3 linked regions of the Homo sapiens genome follow. The protein of the gene in region 1 purifies or fractionates together with the protein of each later gene. This does not show direct contact. Each region holds a gene or a part of one and is shown on either strand. Other genes may lie near its edges.

Region 1 (8,422 bases):
TCTGAAAAATATTTACCTTCTCATAATACTGTAAACTTTTAATACTGATTTAACAAAAATGTATACTGATAAGGTGGGGAGAAAAGAAGTATGTACATGTTGGGAAGCAGGGAAGTGAGAGAGTTTCATCATGTCTTATATTAGCAAATAAATAGAAAACATCTATAACAGAAAAACTAACAGATTTTAAGCAAGGTTTTTTCTGATATATGGAAATAACAGACACTAGGAAAAATAGATTAAAAAGGGGAGGGAAGTTGAAAATCATAGCTTCTAAGGAGCAGAATAGAAGTAGAATGTAAGAGTCATAACAGAGGACAGCTGTTTCACATATTACACTATTTGAGGCTGGGCGTGATGGCTCACGCCTGTAATCCCAACACTTTGGGAGGCCAAAGTGGGTGGATCACGAGGTCAGGAGTTCAAGACCAGCCTGACCAACATGGTGAAACCCCATCTTTACTAAAAATACAAAAATTAGCCAGGCCTGGTGGCACGCGCCTGTAATCCCAGCTACTTGGGAGGCTGAGACAGGAGAATTGCTTGAACCTGAGAGGCAGAGGTTGCAGGAGCCGAGATCACGCCATTGCACTCCAGCCTGGGCAACAGAGTGAGACTCCATCTCAAAAAAACTATTTGACTAATATCCAGAATCTACAAAGAACTTAAACAAATTTGCAAGAAAAAAACAACCCCATCAAAAAGAGGGCAAAGGATATGAACAGACACTTCTCAAAAGAAGACATTTATGCAGCCAACAGATACATGAAAAAATGCTCATCATCACTGGTCATCAGAGAAATGCAAATCAAAACCACAGTGAGATACCATTTCACAACAGTTAGAATGGCGATCATTAAAAAGTCAGGAAACAACAGATGCTGGAGAGGATGTGGAGAAATAGGAACGCTTTTACACTGTTGGTTGGCGTATAAACTAGTTCAACCATTGTGGAAGACAGTGTGGCAATTCCTCAAGGATCTAGAACTAAGAAATACCATTTGACCCAGTGATCCCATTACTGGGTATATACCCAAAGGATTACAAATCATGCTGCTATAAAGACACATGCACACATATGTTTACTGCGGCACTATTCACAATAGCAAAAACTTGGAACCAACCCAAATGTCCACCAATGATAGACTGGATTAAGAAAATGTGGCACATATACACCATGGAATACTATGCAGCTATAAAAAAGGGTGAGTTCAAGTCCTTTGCAGGGACATGGATGAAGCTGGAAACCATCATTCTGAGCAAACTATCACAAGGACAGAAAACCAAACACCGCATGTCCTCACTCATAGGTGGGAATTGAACAATGAGAACACCTGGATACAGGGCAGGGAACATCACACACGGCGGGCGGGTCTGTCTTGGGGTGGGGGGCAGGGGGAAGGATAGCATTAGGAGAAATACCTAATGTAAATGACGAGTTAATAGGTGCAGCACACCAACATGGCACATATATACATATGTAACAAACCTGCACGTTTTGCACATGTACCCTAGAACTTAAAGTATAATAAAAAAAAACTATTTGACTATTTAAACCAAATACATGTAATACTCATAAAAATTTGGAGTAACTAAGTAATTAAATTAGAAACATGTTTAAACAGATACAGATAGTACTATACATATTTTGTGGATACACAGGAATTTTTTTAAGTACTAAAATATGAATAGGAAAGATATAAAAAGTTAGAAGGTAAAAGGCAGGAAGAGAAGCAGGCAGCAGTGGGCTATATCTATAATGCCTTAATTTCTTTTTTAAAAATTAGTGGCAAATAAGACAAAATATAACAGTTAAATCCAGGGGGAAGACAATGGAAGTCTTAATGTATACCCCACCATAAAGAGAGCTCTGTAAAGACAGGTGTTATTCTATTTTGTGGACCTATTTGTATCTATGAGTGCTTAGAAATGCCTGGTACAGGCTGGGCGCGGTGGCTCACGCCTGAAATCCCAGCACTTTGGGAGGCCAAGGCAGGCGGATAACGAGGTCAGGAGATCGAGACCATCGTGGCTAACACGGCGAAACCCCATCTCTACGAAAAAATACAAAAAAAATTAGCTGGGCCTGGTGGCGGGCACGTGTAGTCCCAGCTACTTGGGAGGCTGAGGCAGGAGAATGGCGTGAACCCAGGAGGCGGAGCTTGCAGTGAGCCGAGATCGCGCCACTGCACTCCAGCCTGGGCGACAGAGTGAGACTCCGTCTCAAAGAGAAAAGAAAAAGAAAAAAAGACATGCCTGGTACAGAGTAGTTACATAATAACTATTTGTGGAAAATATAAGTTACTCTATTTTCTCTGTATTTAAAATATTTCGTAATACATTTAATTAAAACTATAGTTTTATTTTAAAAACTCAAATAATTTATAAACATGTACAGTAAAAAAGTCTTCTTACCCTTCTCCAGGGATAACATTTTAATGTGTATTTTCCAGACACTTTTAAAATATTGTCTACACAGGATACTACGATTATTTTATAGTTTGTTTTCAGCACAGCAGCTTATTTGTAAAATTATGGGAAAAAAAACATTTTTGAGACCCAGAGTCTGTCATTCTCAATTCAGTCCATTTTCAAAGATGTGACAAATCTACCTTTACATTCATGACCACAACCTTCAAAAGTGCGCCTCTGGTACTGCCAGGCAAACACATATGGTTTCCCTAATCCATTCACTCCTCCTCTGCTAGAAGACTTATTTAGTAGTCTTTTTTTATTTCAATTTCTACTACCTCGATCTTAGCTGATGATCGTCCTTTCTATTTCACTAAGCAAGAAGAAATCAGGAGACAGCCTGCACAAGTTCTCATCACCACATCTACCAGCCTCCTGAATCTGTACCCATATATCCATTATCCTGTCTAAAGTGAACACCTCCATATATGCTGCTATTTTCTACTCAAGGACACTGCTTTAGCAGTTCTCCTTGCTCTCCTACATCATCAATTTTTCCTCTTGATAATAGGCTAAGAAGTCAGGAACAGAAAGACAAATAGCATGATTGATCTCACTTATATGTGGAATCTAAAAGTTGAACTTACAGAAGCAGACAGTAGAATGATGGTTGCCAGGGGTTGAAGAGTGGAGGGGAAGGGAAAATGAGGACATGTTGGTCAAAGGGCACAAAGTTTCAGTTCAATGGAATGAATAAATTCTGAAAATCTATTGTACAGCATGGAGAATACAGTTACTAATAATGTATACTTGTAATTTGCTAAGAGATCAGATCTTAACTGTTCTCTACAAAAAAATGATGACTGTGTGAGGTGACTGATATGTTAAGTAGCTTGATTTTATGTCAAAATATAGGCTGGGTGTGGTGGCTCACACCTGTAATCCCAGCACTTTGGGAGGCCGAGGCAGGAAGATCACCTGAGGTCTGGAGTTCGAGACCAGCCTGGCCAACATGGCAATACCCTGTCTCTACTAAAAAAAAAATACAAAACTTAGCCGGGTGTGGTGACATGTGCCTGTAGTCCCAGCTACTCAGGAGACTGAGGCAGGAGAATCGCTTGAACCCGGGAGGCGGAAATTGCAGTCAGCCGAGATTGCGCCACTGCACTCCAGCCTGGGCAACAGAGCAAGACTCCATCTCTCAAAAACAAAATAAAACAAAACAAAATGTAAACATGTATCAAAAACATCACATTGTATACCCTAAGTTACGATTTTAACTTGTATATTATACCTTAATAAAGCAGTGGAGGGGGAGGTAAAGAATGAAATGTATGTTGCATTACCTGAGTGAATGAGTCAACTGAGGATACAGCAGCATTACCTACAGGAGTCTGCTGAGCCATACTGTCTAATAATTCCACTGAAATTCCAATCTGAGCAACAGATGGAGTTCGGACAATATTCATGGCTCCAAAAGGATGTTGGCTTCCTTCTCCTGCAAGAAATTAACATATGACACACATTTCAAATTAAACTTGTAGTCACACAATTTCCTTTGTAAATTTATAAAGAACCTCTAATTTATATACATGAAAAAGTTTTATGTCCAAGTTTGTCCCTCTTTTCAGATAAATGCAAAAGCCTACTTCGTTTTTAGCATATTAACAAAGAATAAAAGAACTAAAAGTTTCCCACCAGAAAAATAGCTGTCACATTTCTGAAATGTATTGAAACTACTGCAACTAGACACAGACAGTAACAGAGTGTGGGAAAAATAAATAATTAATAGAGAAGACTCCCTTTAGCATTCCTTATGGAGCAGGTCTGCCAGCAATGACTTAGTTTTTGTTTATCTAGGAAAGTATTTCTCCTTCATCTCTAAAGACAGTTTTGCTGAGTATATAATTCCTGGTTGATGGCTTTTTTTTTTTTCCTTTCAGAACTCTGAATATGCCAATCCACTACCGTCTAGAAGACTATGGGGTCTCTGATGAGAAATCAGCTATTAATCTTAGCAAGGATCCTTGCATGTGATGAGTTACTTCTCTTGATGCTTTCAACATTCTCTCTTTACCTTTTGACAGTTTGATTATCGTGTGTCTTGGTGTAGTTTATCCTACTTGGAGTTTCTTGAGCTTCTTAAATGTGGTTAATGTTTTTCCTCAAATTTGAGAAGTTTCTGAGCATTATTTATTTAAATATTGTTTTAGTCTGTTCAGGCTGCTATAACAAAACACCATAAACTGGGTAGCTTATAAACATCGGAAATTTATTTCTCACAGTTCTGGAGGTTGGGAAGTCCAAGATCAAGGAACCGGCAGATTTGGTATCTGGTGAAGGACCATTTTCTGGTTCAGACAGTGCCTTCTCACTGTGTTCTCACGTGGTAGTAGGGCAAGTGATCTTCTTATTACTCTAAGAGTGGTAATCCCATTCATGAGGGCTCTACTCCCATGACCCAGTCACCATCCAAGTCCCTACCTCCCAATACCTTGGGGGTTAGGATTTCAGCATATAAATTTAAAAGACCTCATCATATAAAAAGACACAAACATTCAGACCAGAGCAAATATTCTTTCCAGCCCTCCCGCCTTTCCATATGTTACTCTCATTACACTGTGTCTGCTGTGCATGTTGGTGCACTTGAGGGTGTCTCACAGGTCTCTAAGGGTCTGCTCTTCAAACTGGATATTCCAATTAATTTATCTTCGACTTCACTGATTCTTTCTTCTGTCTACTCAATTCTGCTATCTAAGCCCTTTAGTGAACCATTCAGTTACTGTACTTTTCAGCTATAAACTCTGTTTAGTTCCTTTCTATAATTTCTATATTGATATTCTCTATTTGATGATGTATCATTCTTCTGGTTTCCTTTAGCAATTTGAGCATAATAAAGACAGCTTACTTAAAGTCTTTGCCTGTGCTTCCCTGGGGGAAGTTTCTGTTCGTTTCCTCTGTATAAGAGCCTTACTTTGTTTCTTTGTATGTTTCATAATTTTTTGTAGAAAACTGGACATTTTGAATATTACAATGTGACGACGCTATAAATCAGATGTTTCCACCTTCTAGGGGTTTGTTGTTGCTGTTTATTGTAGTTGTTTCCTCATTTAATGACTTATCTGAACTAATTTTGTAAAGTCTGTTTCTTTGTTATGTGTGGCCAGTGAAGTCTCTGTTCCATTAGTTAGTAGTCTGCTAGTGATTAGAAAGAAATTTCCTTAAACCTCTGCAACCAAAAAATTCTGCCAGTCTTTGCAGATGGGCTCTGCGTGTTGGGACATGCCTTTAGTATTCAGCCAGGCAGTTTATAACTCCACCTTAGTCTTCACTTCCTGCTTGTGCGGAGACTTAAAGTGAGCCAGAAGAGAGAGCTCTGGGTCTTCGCGGGTCTTTCCTGAGCATGCACAAAGCTCTGGGAATGCACGTACCCTTCTAGATTACCAAGAATATGTCAGAGAATTTCAAAGCCCTCATTCCCCAAAGCATCTCATTCCCAACCTTTCTGGTTAGTTTTGGTTTACTCCAACTGTTTTCCTTTGCCTCGGGCAACAGTAGCTAAAACATATGTCTGTAAATACTTTTAACAAACACCCCCAAGGTAGATACTTTTCCATGAAGAGTTCCAAGTTAGGTGACATAAAGGCAGACCTCTTTTTTTTTAAACAGTCTTCTAGCAAGCCACCAGACAGATGAAAACAAGTTAATTACAATTCTTTCTGAATTAGGTCTATCCTGCTCCCTATATCAGTACCAGGAATGGAGTCTGTTATTTTCAAGGCTATCACTGAGCTGAGAAGCAGATGGGACAAGGGTAGCCAAATGCCACAAAGCTCACTGTTCTTACTGAGATTCAGTGTATTTTCTTGATTAAATGTTCCCCTGATTGCTACAAGCTTTTGGTTAGTTACCAGAGTTCCAAAAAAGTTGATTCTGGGTCAGACACAGTTGCTCATATCCTGTAATCCCAACACTTTCAGAGGCTGAGGCAGGAGGACTGCTTGAGCCCAGAAGTTTGAGACCAGCCTGGGCAACATGGGGAGACCCCATCTCTACAAAAGTTAGCCAGGCGAGGTGGTGCATGCTTGTGGTCCTAGCTACTTGGGAGGTGGAGGTGGGAGGATCGCTTAGGCCTAGGAGATCGAGACTACAGTGAGCTGTGATCTTCTGACAGTGTTGTTGTTGCTTTTATGGAAGACTGGATTTTCTGGAGCTCCTTACTCTACCGTTTGATTTCTTTTAAATCTAGAATTATGCTAAAATCCAGAAAACATATCATTATCAAAGCATATCATCAAATAGATGCAAAAATAATAAATTATAAATCATAATACAAAGAAGAGCAAGCAAAATATATGACCTAGTCTTAATATAAAAAACAAATGTAAATTAGATCAAGTTCTTTAAAACACTGTTAACAGTAAATGCAGCAGCTAATTTTTTTTAAGACTCTTTCTCAAAGCATCCCTCCTCCATGTAAATCAAGAGCCTAACACAAAACACAACTCAGAGGAAAAATTCCTACAGGGAGCTAGTTCTTTATTCTCAGTATACAAGGAAAAGCAGTCACCATCATTTGTTATTTGCATCTAATGGAAACTTTACACACACACACACACACACACACACACACACACACATATTTTACAAAGAATGTTGAGAAGAATCAGGAAATAGTGGAAAACAACTTTATTAGATTTTTTCTAAGTATTTAAGTACAGCAAATCCAGATAGTCATTCCACATTTTCCTTGTTTTTAAGATATAGCTGAAATGGGCTATGTCCTGTGAATACAACTGCCCATCAACCATCATGGATAAACATGGAACACATGCGTCTTATGGAACACATCCATTTTATAAATTTCATAAGTCAGATATCTATTAATAAAGTTATAGCTTATGGTTGTATCTTGTTCTTTTTTTGGCATCTACATTGCCATAATATAATACCTGAAAGCTTGAAGTTTTGAAACCTTTAACGGCTCATAATTTGTTGAAGGATGGCTATCCTCTGATCTACATTTTGCAAAATATTTTCATTTTTAGATTTATAACCATTATTTAGAATGATCAAGCCAATTATTTTTTTTTTCATTCCTATACCTATTTCCTTCCAATCACTTCTCTATACACCCCTGCTTTCAGCATTTGTCTATTTATAAAACCATATCCAGTCTATTTTGGAACACAAATATAAGAGATAAAAGAATAGCAGAACACATCCTTTACTACTTGTCCATGACAAAATATTATGTGAGAAATTCCTTCTTCTTAAATGACTGAGTAGAATACCATATTTCTTTTCTTTTTTTTTTTTGTTTGTTTGTTGTTGTTGTTGTTGAGACAGAGTCTCACTCTGTTGCCCAGGCTGGAGTGCGGTAGGACGATCTTGGCTCACTGCAACCTCCGCCTCCTGGGTTCAAGCAATTCTCATGCCTCAGCCTCCCGAGTAGCTGGGATTACAGGCCTGTGCAACCACACCGGCTAATTTTCAAATTTTTAGTGCAGACGGGGTTTCACCATGTTGGCCAGGCCAATCTGGAACTCTTGACCTCAAGTGATCCACCCATCTCGGCCTCCCAAAGTGCTGGGATTACAGACATGAGCCACCGCACCCGGCCTCATATTTTCTCTTGATCCTTAAAAATACATTGTTCAATCATCAAATTTTTAGTTGAGAAAACTCAGATAATGAGATCTTATTTGAAGATTCATAGTAGGTAATTTTGCTTATATGATCCACTTTACCATCGTCATCAGTGTAGAATTTACCTTTCAGTATTCATTTTCTGATTTGTCTAATAATTGTGAAACTTCTTCCTCTGTCAATTTTCTTCTCTTTGCCATTATGAACAAAATATTTAAAAGTATGAATTTACATTCTGTTCAATAAAAGCTAAAAAGAGACCATAAAGATGGTGTCTCCAGTCTCCTTTTATATTACTTAAAAGGTGGCATAATCTTTTGGGCAATGCAACATGAAAATTGTAGGTTAATGCAATGACAAA
Region 2 (8,422 bases), on another chromosome or scaffold:
TGCCAGAGATTTATGTTTAACATATGCCTTTTGATCTTTGATCAAACACCAACCCTCAAGCAGTACTCTTACCAATGTACAATTTTTAGAAACGTTCTTAAGAAAAGGAAATTATTCATGATCTAGCTTCTACTTAACAGTTCTGTATTATAATTATTTATGAACACCAACTATAATTCTTTGGTCCTAACGGTATATAACTCTCCCCCAGCAGCTGACACCCCCTCTCCTTCTCTATTCCCTCATATTGAGTAATCATCTGGCACTATTATTCAAGAGAGATTCAGCTGAATAAATCTAAAAAAGAGTGTTCTTTTTAGATCAGGAATGGTTCAGCAGGTTTCTACAAAGCTTCAATGATATCATTAAAATCCTTTGTTGTGTTTCATGCTCATCAAGCAAAATTCTGATGACCAATTTAATCTCGCAGGTATTTTTGACATTCCTATGGATGACCTAAACAGAGCTCTTTCCCCCTTATTGAGCTGTAACATGCAAGCCATAAATGAGAAAAAAGAACTGAGGTCTTTCTGTACAGGAAGCTGTGCCACTAAAACTATAGGTTTTAGTTATATCAGAGCTGGAAGCCAGTGCTGATAAAAATCATTTTCATGGCCAGGCACAGTGGCTCATGCCTGTAATCCCAGCACTTTGGGAGACTGAGATGGGCAGATCACCTAAGGTTAGGAGTTCGAGACCAGCCTGGCCAACATGGTGAAACCCCATCTCTACTAAAAATACAAAAATTAGCTGGCCATGGTGGCGTGCACCTGTAATCCCAGGTACTTGGGAGGCTGAGGCAGGAGAATCGCTTGAACCCGGCAGGCGGAGGTTGCAGTGAGCTGAGACTGTACCACTGCACTCCACCCTAAGCAACAGAATGAGACTCTGTTGCCAAAAAAAAAAAAAAAAAAAAAAAAAAAAAAAAAAGATTTTCTCTCCTCTTTGAACTTTGCTTCATTTCTCACCAAAACAGTCCATCCTTCCAGCAGCCAATTAAGGAAAGGAAGAAAGACTCCTAACCAAGGCCTCAGTCCATAGTGTGAAGCTATGAACTGTGAAGTGGCATCACCAAGGAATTCTGAAACTCTTCAGCCAGCAAATACTTCCATGTCCCAGATCTCCACCATGTTTGATCGCAGCTTAATGTATCCTCTCTTGTCATCTATCTTTTTACTTTCATCTTCTCTGCTTCTTTTCCCTAAGTCAACTTCCCAGTGTTTCTCTTCCTCACAATGTCTCTGCTCCACTTTCTGGAGCTTTGTTCATGATAAACACCTCTGTCCTCGACATCTTCAATGAACACACTCCCCTTGATATCCTGACTTCAACTAACTAAAGATGCCTTCTGCCTATTCCCTGTCAAATGGAAGCTACTTATTCCCCCAAATCTCACAGTTCAGGTTAGGTGCCGGGTTCAATATGCTTCCAATGCTGCTTCCAAAGTATGATTCATCCTAGAAATGCTGAGGTTCATGATGCTCAACTAGTCTTTGGTCCTAGCTTTCAGTCATTACCCCACATTCAATGACAACTTCAGCACCCAACTCGGTAACTCAGTATGTCTCTCTGTCCCAAATCCCACCATGAGATTAAAAGGCATGAAACGAAAATATTCTTTCAATCCCTAGAGATAGACATGAAGCAAACGAAGGAAGACCTTTGCCCATACAAAAGAAGCCTGACCCCTATCTTCTTTATAGTCAAAGTAATAACACAGGACCCACGTTAGAAAACTTACTGCGTCAAATGTTAAAGATTTTATGTCTTCGGTTGCTCCTGAAATGTCCTTATGAATAAAATCCACATTGTCTGGCCACTCTTCTACATGACTTAATTTCCATGAATCACGCCAGTGTTTGTAATTCTTCTTAGCCAGATCATGGTGGTCTTTTCGTACCTCAAAACTTATGACTCGTCCTTGTGATCCAACTTAAGTAAAAAATAATTTGATATTTCATAATATTAATCAGTTTATTAAAAAGTGTCAAAAATGTATTTTGCAAAGGTACTACATGTATGTGAAAAAAATAATTCAAATAGTTCAATGTTACAAGTCTGATCTCCTATCCCTGATCTCCAATTAATCTCCCTCCCTCTTCAGAGGCAACCACATTACCAGCTATTTACCTTTCCCATGATAGTCACTGCCTATACAAGCATGCCAAGTATCTCTCTGTGTTTTTAATACACACTGTGGTGTATTATACACACTGTCCTGTACCTTCCTTCTTACTTACCAATGTCATTTCAGTGCTTCTAGATGTACTGCATTCTTTTTTAACAGGCATTATATTCACTGTATGGCTACGATGAACATTTAGCTTGTTTCTAGTCATATGCTAATATAAACAATACTGCAATGAAAATTCTTATACCTAAGTCTTTGTATCAAGCCAGTATATCTCTACAGGATAAAGTCCTAAAAATGGAATTGCTGGCTCAAGGGGTATGTGAATTTATTCACATAATATTACATTGTCCTCCACGTAAGTGGTGTCAACTTATATGCCAACCAGCAATGTATTAGAATACCTGTATCTCAGGCCGGTCGCAGTGGCTCCCGCCTGTAATCCCAGCACTTTGGGAGGCCGAGGCGGGCAGATCATGAGGTCAGGTGATTGAGACCATCCTGGCTAACACGGTGAAACCCTGTCTCTACTAAAAAAAATACAAAAAATTAGCCAGGTGTTGTGGCACATGCCTGTAGTCCCAGCTACTCGGGAGACTGAGGCAGGAGAAAGGCGTGAACCTGGGAGGCAGAGATTGCAGTGAGCCAAGATGCGCCACTGCACTCCAGCCTGGGTGACAGTGCAAGACTCCGTCTCAAAAAAAAAAAAAAAAAAAAAAAGAATACCTGTATCTCCATACTCTCCCTAAGTTATTGAACTTTTTATCTGTATCAATCTAAAAAGTGAATAAAGTTTATCATTTTTAATGTAGATTTTTGAGTTTGGTTTTTTTTTTTTTTTTTGAGACAAGATCTCACTCTGTCACGCAGGTTGGAGTGCGGTGGTGCAATCACAGCTCACGGCAACCCCCACCTCCCAGGCTCAAGCGATCTTCCCACCTCAGCCTCCTGAACAGCTGGGACGACAGGTGTGTGCCACCACACCCAGCTAACTTTTTGTATTTTTGGTAGAGACAGGGTTTCGCCATGTTGCCAGACTGGTCTCAAACTCGTGAGCTCAAGCAATCTGCCTGCCTCGGCCTCCCAAAGTGCTGGGATTACAGACGTGAGCCACCATGCTCAGCCTTTTAATGTAATTTTAACTTGCATTTCTTTTATTATGGATGAGGTTGAGTCTTTCATATATTTAAAAGGTATTTGTGGCCGGATACAGTGGCTCGCCACAGTAATCCCAGCACTTTGGGAGGGCAAGGCAGGCAGATCACTTGAGGTCAGGAGTTCGAGACCAGCCTGGCCAACATGGTGAAACCCTGTCTCTACCAAAAAATAAAAAAAAAAAATTAAAGGTATTTGTATTTGTGTGTGTGTGTGTGTGTGTGTGTGTGTGTGTGTATGTGAAGAACTTTTAAACTAATTAGCACAGTAATACTGCAATTCCAGAGAGGAGTACTACATTTTAACTTAAGGCAATTAACTTTCCACCCACCTCTATCTGAAGTGATTTGATACCATTTGGAGATTATCCCAGATCAATCAGTTTACAGTTTACTAATGAAGTTTAAATTCCAAGGTATCTTTTGAAATGTAACTCCAACTGCAAGTTATCAGGTTCTCAGGAGATAAAAATTAATTTTAATAGTAACATAAGCTGGGCGTGGTGCCCCATGCCTGTAATCCCAGCACTTTGGGAGGCTTAGGCAAGATTGCTTGAGGCCAGGAGTTCAAGACCAGCCTGGGCAACAGTGAGACCCAGTCTCTACAAAAACTTTAAAAATTAGCCAGCTTTGGTGGTATGTGCCTATTGTCCCACCTACTTGGGAGGCTGGGACGACAGGATCACTTGAGTTCCGAGGGTCAAGGCTGTAGTGAGCCACGATCATACCACTGCATTCCAAACTGGGGAACAGAGTGAGAACCCGCCTCAAAAAAAAAAAAAAAGTAACATAAACAACTGGAAAAGAAAATATGGAGAAAAATATCCATCACATAGGTAAATAGCAATAAGTTCTTGCACATTTATAGTTTAGGATTATTCAAGCCATGACACTCTTCTGATACTATATATTTTAGAAATATAGGCACTTATCTGTTCTCACCAATTTTTATAAATCCACTTTGTCAAATGAAACCGTGCAGTTAGGAATTTGTCATAGATGATGAGAAAATGACTGCCTTTAACTATGTACAGAAAAGTCAAACAAAAGATTGATTGAGGAGCCCAGAATGAATTTACCGGCTTAGTATAATCTAGATAATATTCATATGTGAAGACATTAGGTCAAAGAACAAAAGGTGTGAGTTTAATTTCAGCATATTTCTATCTGTAATCTTTATAAAATCTACTCAAAGAAAGTACTGTGACTATTCAGCAGTCTAGTATTATGTAGGGAAGAGAACACTGCACAGACAGACCACCCAAAGCAACCCTGACACTCAGAGAAATTAGGTAGGCAAAGAGGTACTAATCAACTAGCATAAAAGTAACTAGAAATTAAGTGGTAGGAACATGAAAAAATATATATGTTTAATATACACCTCTTGATTTTTGATCAGACACCCACCTTCAAGCAGTACTTTTACCAACTGACAATTTTTAGAGACTTTCTGGAAAAAAAAAAGATAATTCTTCATGATCTAGCTTTTTACTTAATAGCTCTGTACTATGATTAATTTCTTTATGAACACCTACTATAATTCTTTGGCCCTAACGATATATAACTCTCCCCCCAACAGCTGACAACGTCCTTCCATATTCCCTCAGGCTAAGTATTCACCTGGCACTAGTATTCAACAATAACATGACAAGTACACAAGGAGGTTCCAAGCAGCACTATTTGTAATATCCAACTCAAATGTCTATCAACAGTAAAATAGGTAAATTGTGATTTAAATAGAGAGTATTATACAGCAACTAAAATGAAAGAACTACTGCTGCATGCAATGAGTGAATCTCACAAACATAATAATGAATGAGAGTAGCCAGATACAAAGGAGCACATACTGTATGATTCCATTTTATATAAGTTCGAAGGAGGCAAAACTAATCAGTGATGATAAAAGTCACAATAGTGGTTTCCTTTGGTGATGATAAGGACTGGGAGGGGACATGAGGAGGCATCTGTGGGGCAGGGACACTCCCTACCTTGATCTCGGTAATAAGTACATGAGTGGTCACTATACAAAGATTCATTGAGATATACACTTATGATCTGCACACTTTTCTGTAGCCATATTATATTCCAATAAAAAGTATACTTAAGAAAAAAGAAGCAGCATTAGAGAGCATGGAGAAAGTAAAACAAAGCAAAGAAAATTGAGGGAGGATTAGAAAGAGACTGACTGGAATAAATGTACAGAATGGAAAGAAAAATAGTTGCTTACTTTCAGATTCTAGGAGAATGCTACCTCAATGTTAGGTATTTTCCCAAATATCTTTATACCTTTCTGTTATTATGAACAAATTGAATGTTTTCTTTGTTACTGAGATCCAGCTCAGTCCAATCTCTTACCTGCTTTGGATAAAAATAAGCTCATTCCACCAGAGCCTGAGCCAGCTTCCAAAACAGTATCACCTGGGTTGATATCCATCATTGAGAGAATCATATTAATATCCTATGATTGAAAACAGTATGGGTGACTCAGCGACCAATAAATATGTACTAAGCACCTAGTCTTATCTTACATTGTTGGGTGTGCAGAAGAAGGGAGTGAAAAAACGAATCAGACTCTGGACCTGCCTTCAGTTTATATTTCACTTGATGAAATAAAAGAGATCCAAGAATCAATTAACAAATAAGGCAACACTTCAGAATAATACCAAAATTACAGACAATAAGTTCATAGAGTAGCAGGATGGCCTAGTTTAAAGACAAAGAGTAGACAATTTATGGGAACAATCACAAGGTAAAAACAGCTTTAAACAAAGCAGAGGTAGAATAAATCCAGTTTGTTATCTCAGGAGAGATAGGCAGAGAATTAAATGCCAGTATGAGGCATTAGAACTCAGCCTGATAAGCAACTAGGGTGTGTCACTGAGGTGATATAAATGGCATTTTATGAGGATTAATCTGGCAGAAGAATACAGGATCTACTGGAGAAAAATCAAGAGGCAGGAAGACCAGTTAGGAATTTACTATATAATCTCTGCATAAAATGATGAATTTCCTTTTTTTTTTTTTTTTTTTTTTTGGGAGACGAAGTCTCACTCTTGTCCCCCAGGCTGGAGTGTGATGGCACGATCTTGGCTCACTGCAACCTCCGCCTCCCGGGTTCAAGCGATTCTCCTGCCTCAGCCTCCCGAATAGCTGGGATTACAGGTGCCTGCCACCATGCCCGGCTAATTTTTGTATTTTTAGTGGAGATGGGGTTTCACCACGTTGGCCAGGCTGGTCTTGAACTCCTGACCTCAGGTGATCCGCTCGCCTCAGCCTCCCACAGTGCTGGGATTACAGGTGTGAGCCAGTGTGCCCAGCTCAAAATGATGAACTTCTTATTTTTGGGGGGACAGAGTCTCGCTCTGTCACCCAGGCTGGAGTGCAGTGGTACAATCTTGGCTCACTGCAAGCTCCGCCTCCTGGGTTCAAGCGATTCTCCTGCTTCAGCCTCCCAAGTAGCTGGGATTACAGGCACCCACCACCACACCCAGCTAATTTTTTGTATTTTTAGTAGAGATGGGGTTTCACCATGTTGGCCAGGCTGGTCTCAAACTCCTGATTTCAGGTGATCTGCCCGCCTCGGCCTCCTAAAGTGCTGGGATTACAGGTGTGAGCCAACGTGCCTGGCCAAATGATGAACTTCTAATTTAGAATTAAGATACTATATAACAGCGGTCCCCAACCTTTTGGGCACTAGGGACCCGTTTCGTGGAAGACAGTTTTTCCACAGACTGGGGAGAGGGGGATGGTTTTGGGATGAAATTGTTCCACCTCAGATCATCAGGCATTAGTTAGTTTCTTATAAGGAGCATGCAACCTAGATCTGGTGCATGCACAGTTCACAAGAGTTTGCACTCCTATGAGAATCTAATGCCATGGCTGATCTGACAAGAGATGGAGCTCAGGCAGTAATGCTCACTACCCACCGCTAACCTGCTGTGTGGCCCGGTTCCCTGTTACAGGCCACACACTGGTACCAGTCCTCAGCCTGGGGGTAGGGGAGCCCTGCTATATAAGAAAAAAAAGAGACTATGCTATTACTAGATTGGAGGACCCACTTGCCAAACATATAATTGGAATTGTTTTTGTTAACACAAATATTACGGATGATATTAATAAAAACTGTTTTTTTAAATTTAGTAAACAAATTTTCTTGGTGACAGGGTCTCTGTCACTCAGACTGGAGTGTAGTAGTGCAATAGTAGCTCACGGCAGCCTCGAACTTCTGGGCTCAAGCAATCCTCCTACCTCAGCCTCCAAAGTAGCTGGGACCACAGGCATGTACCACCATGCCCAACTAATTTTTTTTTTATTTTTTATAAAGATGGGGTCCTGCTATGTTGGCCAGGTTAGTCTTGAACTCCTAGCCTCCAGCAATCCTCCTGCCTTGGCCTCACAAAGCACTGAGATTACAGGTGTGAGTGACGGCACCTGCCCCCTCACTTTTTTTTTGAGATAGGATCTTACACTGTTGCCCAGGCTGGAGTGCAGTGGCAAGATCATGGCTCGCTGCAGCCTCAAACTCCTGGGCTCAAACAATCCTCCCATCTCAGCCTCCTGCGTAGCTGGGACCACAAGTGTGTGCCAGCATACCTGGCTAATTTTTTATTTTTTGTAGAGACAAGGTCTCCCTATGTTGCCCCGGCTGGTCTCAAACTTCTGGGCTCAAATGATCCTCCTGCCTCAGCCTCCCAAAATATTGAGATTACAAGTGTGAGCCACTGCACTCTGCCTCTGGTCATATTTTTAATACTAAGATGGAATTATGTAATTCTAACAGGGAGATCAGTTTTTAAACATCAGTGAAGGTATTCCCTCAAGCATTTCAAAGTTGTAGAAGTTGAAGTAAAACTATCTCCAGCCATTACTTGGAAGCTATAAAGAGAAGTCAACACCTAACAAATTTAGTACTTAAATTCCTCCTTAGAGTGGAACAATGTGACTTTTATCTGTAACAAATGGAAAGGCAGAAAGTATACTAAATATGCATATTTATAACTTCATGAAATGTAACTAATCTCTCCTGATTTTGTCTAATGGGGAGAAAGGAGACACGGGGAAGCAAGATAAAATTACGAAAGTCTTTTAGTTTTCTTCAAGAGCTTATGATACCATGGCCAGGAGCGGTCGTTCTCAC
Region 3 (8,422 bases), on another chromosome or scaffold:
GTCAGCTTGTTAAGTTCCAGTGACAGTTCCACTATTTCCTGGCCTGTGACTTAGGACAACTTAACTCTCTTTTTTTTCTTCTTCTGTAATATGAAATGATTCTAGAGCCTAATTCTCCAGGTTAAATTCCCAGGGTTGTTCCTCAAGATAAATGATAATTATATAAGATCTAGCATAGTACCTGAAATGTGAAGAGAATGCACTTACTCACCAGTGTCCACCCGTTTCATTATGGTCATTACCTTTACGAAGACTGTGGTTACGTTGGAAGTAGGGAGTTGGCCAAGATCAACCAGATATAATTGCAGCTACATTTTTTGCTGTTTTGAGACAAGGTCTTGCTCTGTCATCCACGCTGCAGTGTCGTGGCACAATCTGAGCTCATTGTAGCCTCAGCTTCCTGAGTTCAAGAAATCCTCCCAGCTCAGTCTCCCGAGTAGCTGGGATCACAGGTATGCCTTACCACACCTGGCTAATTTTGGTACTTTGTGTAGAGACAGGGTTTCGCCCTGTTGCCCAGGTTGGTCTTGAACACTTGAGCTCAAGTGATACGCCCACCTCAGCTTCCCAAAAAGCTGGGATTATAGGTGTGAGCCACTGCGCCCAGCCTCTGCAGCTAAAATTTTTTAAAAGTTTCCCTCCTCTAGCCAGACCATACCTCTTCATTGCCAGGTAAAATTGTTCTCTGAGTATATCCGAATCACCAGTTTGATTAAATTCAGGGTAATTCCCCTCAAACTCTGCCAAGTTTAATATAAACCAACATATTTTGAATAACTGTAATTAACACTCGAACACATTTTCTATTGATCAGAATTCAGGCTTTATTATTGAGCAATGAAAACAGCTAAAACTTAATTCCAAGCATGTGTAGTTAAAGTTTGCAAAGTGGGATATTGTTCACAAAACACATTCAATGTTTAAACACTATTTATTTGAAGAACAAAATATATTTAAAATTGTTTGCTTCTAAAAAGCCCATTTCCCTCCAAGTCTAAACTTTGTAATTTGATATTAAGCAATGAAGTTATTTTGTACAATCTAGTTAAACAAGCAGAATAGCACTAGGCAGAATAAAAAATTGCACAGACGTATGCAATTTTCCAAGATAGCATTCTTTAAATTCAGTTTTCAGCTTCCAAAGATTGGTTGCCCATAATAGACTTAAACATATAATGATGGCTAAAAAAAATAAGTATACGAAAATGTAAAAAAGGAAATGTAAGTCCACTCTCAATCTCATAAAAGGTGAGAGTAAGGATGCTAAAGCAAAATAAATGTAGGTTCTTTTTTTCTGTTTCCGTTTATCATGCAATCTGCTTCTTTGATATGCCTTAGGGTTACCCATTTAAGTTAGAGGTTGTAATGCAATGGTGGGAATGAAAATTGATCAAATATACACCTTGTCATTTCATTTCAAATTGCGGCTGGAAACTTCCAAAAAAAGGGTAGGCATGAAGAAAAAAAAAAAATCAAATCAGAACCTCTTCAGGGGTTTGTGTTCTGATATGGCAGACAAGATACAAGTCCCACCAGGAGATGGAGCAATTCAAAATAAGGGTAATGGGCTGACAAGGTATTATTGCCAGCATGGGACAGAATGAGCAACAGGCTGAAAAGTTTTTGGATTATATAGCACCTAGAGTCTCTGATGTAGGGAATTTTTGTTAGTCAAACATACGCTAAACTTCCAAGGGAAAATCTTTCAGGTAGCCTAAGCTTGCTTTTCTAGAGTGATGAGTTGCATTGCTACTGTGATTTTTTGAAAACAAACTGGGTTTGTACAAGTGAGAAAGACTAGAGAGAAAGATTTTAGTCTGTTTAGCAGAAGCCATTTTATCTGCGTGCACATGGATCAATATTTCTGATCCCCTATACCCCAGGAAGGGCAAAATCCCAAAGAAATGTGTTAGCAAAATTGGCTGATGCTATCATATTGCTATGGACATTGATCTTGTGTTGCAATTTTTTAATAAGTAAAAATTATGATTTTTACTTGATCTTAGAGATCATGAACCTATAAGTTATGATGAATCTTGCTTGGAGGACACATTGGAGAAAGACCTATTGAGGGATGGTGAACTCGCATATGTATCTCTTGCTGCTGCGACAGGCCTCATCACTCCACTTGCCCTGAGCTGATTGGGAGAACAGGACACAGTTTTCTCGCTTGCCACCGTTAGGCTGTGCACGGTCCCAGTTGAGGAAGGAGATAGCGATTCCGTTGACGTCAACAAACTTGCCTTCCGTGACCATGTCATTGATGCCCAGCCAAAAGTCATTGACACCTGGCAGGCTCCTTTTACCATAGTCTTGGAGGGCGTTGATTTCGTCGGAGTTCCTGGGGATAACCAGGATTCCTCCTTTGGAAATGCAGTCTTCATTGGCCTCATGGAAATGCTTCAAACCTTCTGAAGCAAGGTAGCATTTCTTGTGAACTTTAGTGCCTCGGAGACAGACTGTGAAGATGTGAAGTGTAACATATTAAGATGCATTTTGAGTGTATTATGACTAGGGCTGGACCTGGCAAATAGCAATAAGTATTTGTGGAATGAAGTATGATAATGATGAGACAACAGTTAAAATTTTCTATGTGCCGGACAACATGCTAAGCATTTTACATAAATTAAGTTACATAATCCTGACAACCCCATGAAGTTGTATTTTATTACCCCTATTTTTACATATCAGGATATTTAGGCTTAGAGAAGTTGTTACTTGTAACACCTTAGCATTTTTTTTTTTTTTTTTTTGAGTTGGAGTCTCGCTCTGTCGCCCAGGCTGGAGTGCAGTGGCGCCATCTCGGCTCACTGCAAGCTCCGCCTCCCGGATTCACGCCATTCTCCCGTCTCAGGCTCCCGAGTAGCTGGGACTACAGGTGCCTGCCACCACACTCGGCTAATTTTTTGTATTTTTAGTAGAGACGGGATTTCACCGTGTTAGCCAGGATGGTCTCGATCTCCTGACCTCATGATCCGCCTGCCTCGGCCTCCCAAAGTGCTTGGATTACAGGCGTGAGCCACTGCGCCTAGCCACATTTTTTTAAATGAAGTAATTTTTGCAGCATGTGAGATCACAGCTACCCAAATGCAGGTCTGCCCTATCCCAAGACATGGCCTTAAACTTCATGCTGTTCTGATATATACATGCTTGCTACTCTGTGTTGGATTTCTTTGGGAGTTTTGGAACTAGATGGTATTTAATATTTATTTTTAAAAATATTTGTTTAAAAAAAAAATGCTTGGCGTGGTGGCTCACACTTATAATCCCAGCACTTAGGGAGGCAGAAGCGGGTGGATCACAAGGTCAAGAGTTCAAGACCAGTCTGGCCAACATAGTGAAACCCCGTCTGTACTAAAAATACAAAAAATTAGCTGGATGTGGTGGTGTGTGCCTATAATCCCAGCTACTCAGGAGGCTGAAGCAGGAGAATCGTGCGAACCTGGGAGGCAGAGGTTGCAGTGAGCCGAGATTGCGCCATTGTACTCCAGCCCGGGCAACAGTGCAAGACTCTGTCTCAAAAATCAATCAATCAATCAATCAATTAAATTCTAGTTTTGCATGTGGAGAGACAGGGATTTTCTTAAGCAGATAACTGAGCCTTGGTAATATTGTTTAGATTATTCAGGATAAACTGAGCATAAAGATAGTTTTAGGCCGTAGCACTGGAGAGTCAGGCCTCAGAGCCCATAGTGCCTGGGTTTAGGTCTCATCTCTGACATTTAACTAGCTGTGTATCTCTTGAACAAATTACTTACCTTCTTTGTGCCTCATTTTCCTCATCTGTAAAATTAGGATCATAATAGCTTAAGTTGCTGGAGGATTAATGGATTTGTGTTTATAAAGAATTTCTAGTACCTGACTGTGGGTAAAGGATGAACCAAACTCACCTTCTGCATAAGCATTTGACTGTCTTTTAACTTTCTAATTCTGTTCCCCCGGAAGCCTGATAAAGGGAGTATGTCACCCTTGTTACTAGGCAACATTGCTTGTGGTAAAAATGACCCCAGGTTGGTAACATGCATCTGGTCTGGGAGTTATAAATACTTGATGGAAAGCCGTAACTTCAGTCTTCCCTGAAGGCAGTAACTTGTAATGAGGCAGGTCTCTTGTGAGGAACCTCAACACCTTGCTTTTGAAATTGCTACAAAGGATATTAGCTCCTTGGGGGATGAGCCTTGTAAACCAGGGCTGTTCCCAAACCTGCCCACATGGCTCACTTCCTCACCCCTTGGAGAATAGCTCCTGGGCAGTAGCGCATGTGGCTGCATAACTGTGGGGAGGAACGCTGGCGCTGCCCTGTTGGCAAGCTGCGGTTCTAACCCATGTCCTTCCAGCATCTTAGGCTGGGTGTGGCCCGAGAGAGTCCTGGTGGCCTGATAGGCACTTAGCTATCATCCAATAAATGCTAATCATTTTAGTCATTTCATACTGGCTTCATTCTGTTTCACTACTCTTTAGAGAATAAGTATGGACTGACTTTTCAAATTTATTCCTGAACTACTTATTTTTATTTCTATACCACCCATATATAGGAGAATGGGATTGTAAATGAAGCTGATTTCCTAAAACAATCATCTCCCGGCATTGGGGCCCTCTTATTGGCCACATTATTGATTTGTCAATGTTTCTTTTAAAAAGACGTCCCCCAGAAATTGACCCAGAAATTTTCCTGTCTCCTTTGGGACAAGGCACTGAGAAGGTCTGCACCTTACCTGTCTGCAGGGCTTGAATTTCCTTCAAGGCATTGACTTCTGTCCAGAGCTTTTCAATTTGAGTCTTCAGATCTCCATCCTTGTCTGGGGAAAATTTTAGGGTGGGATGGGGTAGGTGGATGAAAAGCGTATGATTAAAATAAAATCAAGCTTTGGAATGTAGGACCCAAGGCAATAGTGGTTTTGGTGAACCTGAGCCCAGTGTATACAAAAAATAATGCGTGAAAATAACTTGGGGCTGGCGAAGTGGCTCACGCCTGTAATCCCAGCACTTGGGGAGGCCAAGGCGGGTGGACCACTTGAGGCCAGGAGTTCGAGACCAGCCTGGCCAACATAGCAAAACCCTGTCTCTACTAAAAGTATAAAAATTAGCTGGGCATGGTGTTGAATGCCTGTAATTCCAGCTATTTGGGAAGCTGAGGCATGAGAACTGCTTCAACTTGGGAGGCAGAGGTTGCAGTGAGCAAAGATCATTCCACTGCACTCCAGCCTTGGTGAGGGAGTGAAACTCTGTCTGAAAAAAAACCAAACAAACAAAAAAACAATGAATGAAGGAAAGAAGGAAGGAAAAAAAGAAAAAGAAAATAACTTGGACAGGAAGATTCTTAAGAGCTTCATGGCAATCATAATACTAGAAGGTCCTTCTGTGAGATGAGGCTCCTTCTGTCTCTCCAGTCACATCCTGTGACTCTAGGCTTGTTGACTTTCAGGGTCATCTGAGAATGAGCTCAATCTCATCTTCCCTGTGTGTTCCTTCTGCTAGGATCACTCTTGCTCCAGCGCTTTCCTGTATTCTTAGCAAGCTTAAATATCTCCTCTTCTGAGAAGGCTTTCCTGGTTATACTATAATTTAGTATCCCTTCTGCTAATCTGTCTTTGAAACTTATTTTTCTTCATTCTCTAGTCTCAGTTCACATTTTATTTTATTCCATATTTTATAGAGTATTCTGTATATTTTCTTTTCTCTATTTTACTTTATTTCATCTGTCTTATTATTCTTGGTTCTTCTGATGCTTAACATGATACTTGGTACATAATAGGTGTTCATAATATTGTCTAGTGAATACACACTTTATGGTATACAAAATTGTTTTCACTTGCTCTTCAAACATAGCTATGAAGGGAGAAAAATTGGATTCCCACTGAAGAATGAGGACAAGTCCAATGAGAGTGTCTCAAAAGATACATGGCAGAATTCATACTCTGACTGATTTGGGTCCCCAGGTCCCCTGTCCCCAGTGTTCCGACTCAACACATGCCTCAGGTATGGTGGCTACTAGCAGGGTTAAGTGCTAAAGGTTCATATAGAAATACGTCTATATTAGGTATTAGCAACTTAAGTCTTGTATGTTCCTGGATGAGGCTAAAGGATCTTTATAGCTGTCCTTGACCAATCTTGGCTATAAGTAAGTGGCAGAAAACAAGAAGCCTTGGATAAATTGAAATTTCAGGTGTAATAAGGATTCTCTTAGAGATTGGCAGCTTGTGAGGTCTTCAAAAGCAGGAATTATAAATCATAACAAAAATTATTAAAAGCTTCCACATACTGTTTGTCAGAGATCAATTCTTTCAGTAGTGCTTTGAGAGAGACACAATCATTGTCTCCATTCTGCAGAAGAAAGAGTCCCGGAAAGCTGAATTCACCTGCTGAAGGTCACCCAGCTAGTAAAGTGAAGAATTGGGATTTAAATTTGCCCAGCTCCAGGCCTGTTCTCATTTCATCCCTCTTACCTGCTTCTGCACAGTGATTGCCTCTACCTTCTTGGTCCCGAGCACATGGCCCCAGACAGAGAAGATACTTAAAGCTTGGTATGAACTGTTCCCAGCTGCTTCTTTGTGGGGATTCCATGGAGGAAGTCTATGTTCTGTACTGGATTTTTCAGGACAGTCTAAAATTCACATGTGCTAATTCACTGTCCCCTTAAACATGTGCTTCATAAGCCAGATGTTTCCTCATTTGGGTTAGGAAGCTGTCTTCTGGAATATCCAGGGGTGGCCCCTGCCTCTGTTTTACTTAATGCTACACATCAGTTCTCAAAGCATCCCATGGCTCAGCTCAGAAATACTATAACCTAAAGATTTTTACCTGTGTGACCATTTAATCCAGAAAAAATGTAAGGGTGCATTCAGAATGCAAATTCATCAGCTGGTGGGGGCCGGGCTTGCAAAGACTGCTGAACACTTTCTTCCAAGGTATAAGCTGTCACCTCTAAAAATGTCATCCCCCATCCCTCTCAGCTTCCTGCTCCATTCTCCTTAAATAAGTGGCCTCTACTGGGAGATTGTAAACATTGTAATTAACATGAAGACACATGAATTGATATTAGGCTCCTGGGAGATGGTTATGAAATTCATTGTCCAGGGACTTGGCTGTAGCTTCCATCCTTTGTAGCTGATATAGATGTCTTTTATGTACAACAAACAAAGGGAATATGTGGAACAACTACTGAGCTGGAAAAGTCATATTTTATTCATGAATGCAACACATAAATTGAGACCTATGAAGCAAGTACCAGAGAGATCTTGTGTTTGAAGCTAAATTCTTCGGTTGCTATTTTGAGTCCCCCAGAAGGCTCCCTTTCATTTTACTGTTGCTCTCCAGAGGTAGACACAGTGTAGAAACACAAAAGTCATTCCCAGAAGACATGGCCAGTAAAACCATTATATGATGTTGGACTGTCAAAATACATAGGAATGGGCACTCCCATACACAGAAGATGGGAAGATGGATTGGTGTTATCATTTGGAGGGACAATTAGAAAGTATAATTAACCTGCAATTTTACTTCTGGAAATGTCTCATAACATCCTAACATGGGGAGCAGTATGTGTGCAAAGCAGTTACTTGGGGCTATTGAATCAAAAAGAGATGTATTGGGAGAGATCAGATTAAGTGATGACCCATCCAAACAATGGAATATTATGCAGCTGTTAAAATGAATAAAGTATTGCTTACACTGGTAACTATCCAAGGTTTAATAGATGAAATAAATTTATTTGCCTAGCCAAACATTCTGCATAGCCAATTCTTATTTTGTTAAAAATATGTATTTTAATTGTGCATTTTAAAAACTCTGGGAATAGGCTGGGTATGATGGCTCATGCCTGCAATCCCATCACCTGAGGTCAGGAGTTTGAGACTAGCCTGGCCAACATGGTGAAACCCCATCTATACTAAAAAAGATGTATGTACAAATATCAGCTGGGCATGGTGGCGAGCACCTGTAGTCCCAGCTACTTGAGAGGCTGAGGTACTAGAATTGTTTGAACCTGGTGGGTAGAGGTTGCAGTGAGCCGAGATCACACCACTGCACTCCAGCCTGGGTGGCAGAGTGAGACTCTGTCTCAAAACAAACAATCCTACAAAAAACAAAACACAAAACTTCTGGGAATAGTATTACCTGATAGTTAATAGTGGATAATTTTGTGGTGAGGATTGGGAGAGAGAAGATGGCTTTCACTTTTGATCTCTTTAACACTGGTATTATTATATTTCAAGGTACTTAAACTATTTTAAAAGTATATGGATGGGTGGGGATATAATTGCTTGATCGGTTTAGGTTTATTGCTTCACCTACTGTAGAATCTACTTTCTAGGACCTAATGGCAAAAAGTAGCAAAAACTATACTGGGGGAATGACATTTAAGAGGTGTGTACCTAGTCAGTTTTGTTTTGTTTTGTTTTTAAATAAAAGCATGTGCATGCAC

Evidence for each region.
Region 2: the proteins of HIKESHI (region 1) and TRMT61B purify together in Homo sapiens (affinity purification with mass spectrometry; 2 studies listed by BioGRID and IntAct, with this or other methods). This does not show direct contact.
Region 3: the proteins of HIKESHI (region 1) and CLEC3A purify together in Homo sapiens (affinity purification with mass spectrometry; 2 studies listed by BioGRID and IntAct, with this or other methods). This does not show direct contact.

What each region holds. Positions count from the first base shown.
Region 1 is NC_000011.10:86,332,867-86,341,288, reverse strand, and holds part of HIKESHI (protein Hikeshi), read right to left. Parts: intron 5,326-8,422; exon of another isoform or gene 4,356-5,325; intron 3,911-4,355; coding exon 3,759-3,910; intron 1-3,758. UniProt on the Homo sapiens protein: Acts as a specific nuclear import carrier for HSP70 proteins following heat-shock stress: acts by mediating the nucleoporin-dependent translocation of ATP-bound HSP70 proteins into the nucleus.
Region 2 is NC_000002.12:28,859,377-28,867,798, forward strand, and holds part of TRMT61B (tRNA (adenine(58)-N(1))-methyltransferase, mitochondrial precursor), read right to left. Parts: intron 5,744-8,422; coding exon 5,641-5,743; intron 1,933-5,640; coding exon 1,742-1,932; intron 1-1,741.
Region 3 is NC_000016.10:78,024,484-78,032,905, reverse strand, and holds the end of CLEC3A (C-type lectin domain family 3 member A precursor), read right to left. Parts: intron 4,800-8,422; coding exon 4,716-4,799; intron 2,460-4,715; coding exon 2,065-2,459; 3' UTR 805-2,064; downstream 1-804. UniProt on the Homo sapiens protein: Promotes cell adhesion to laminin-332 and fibronectin.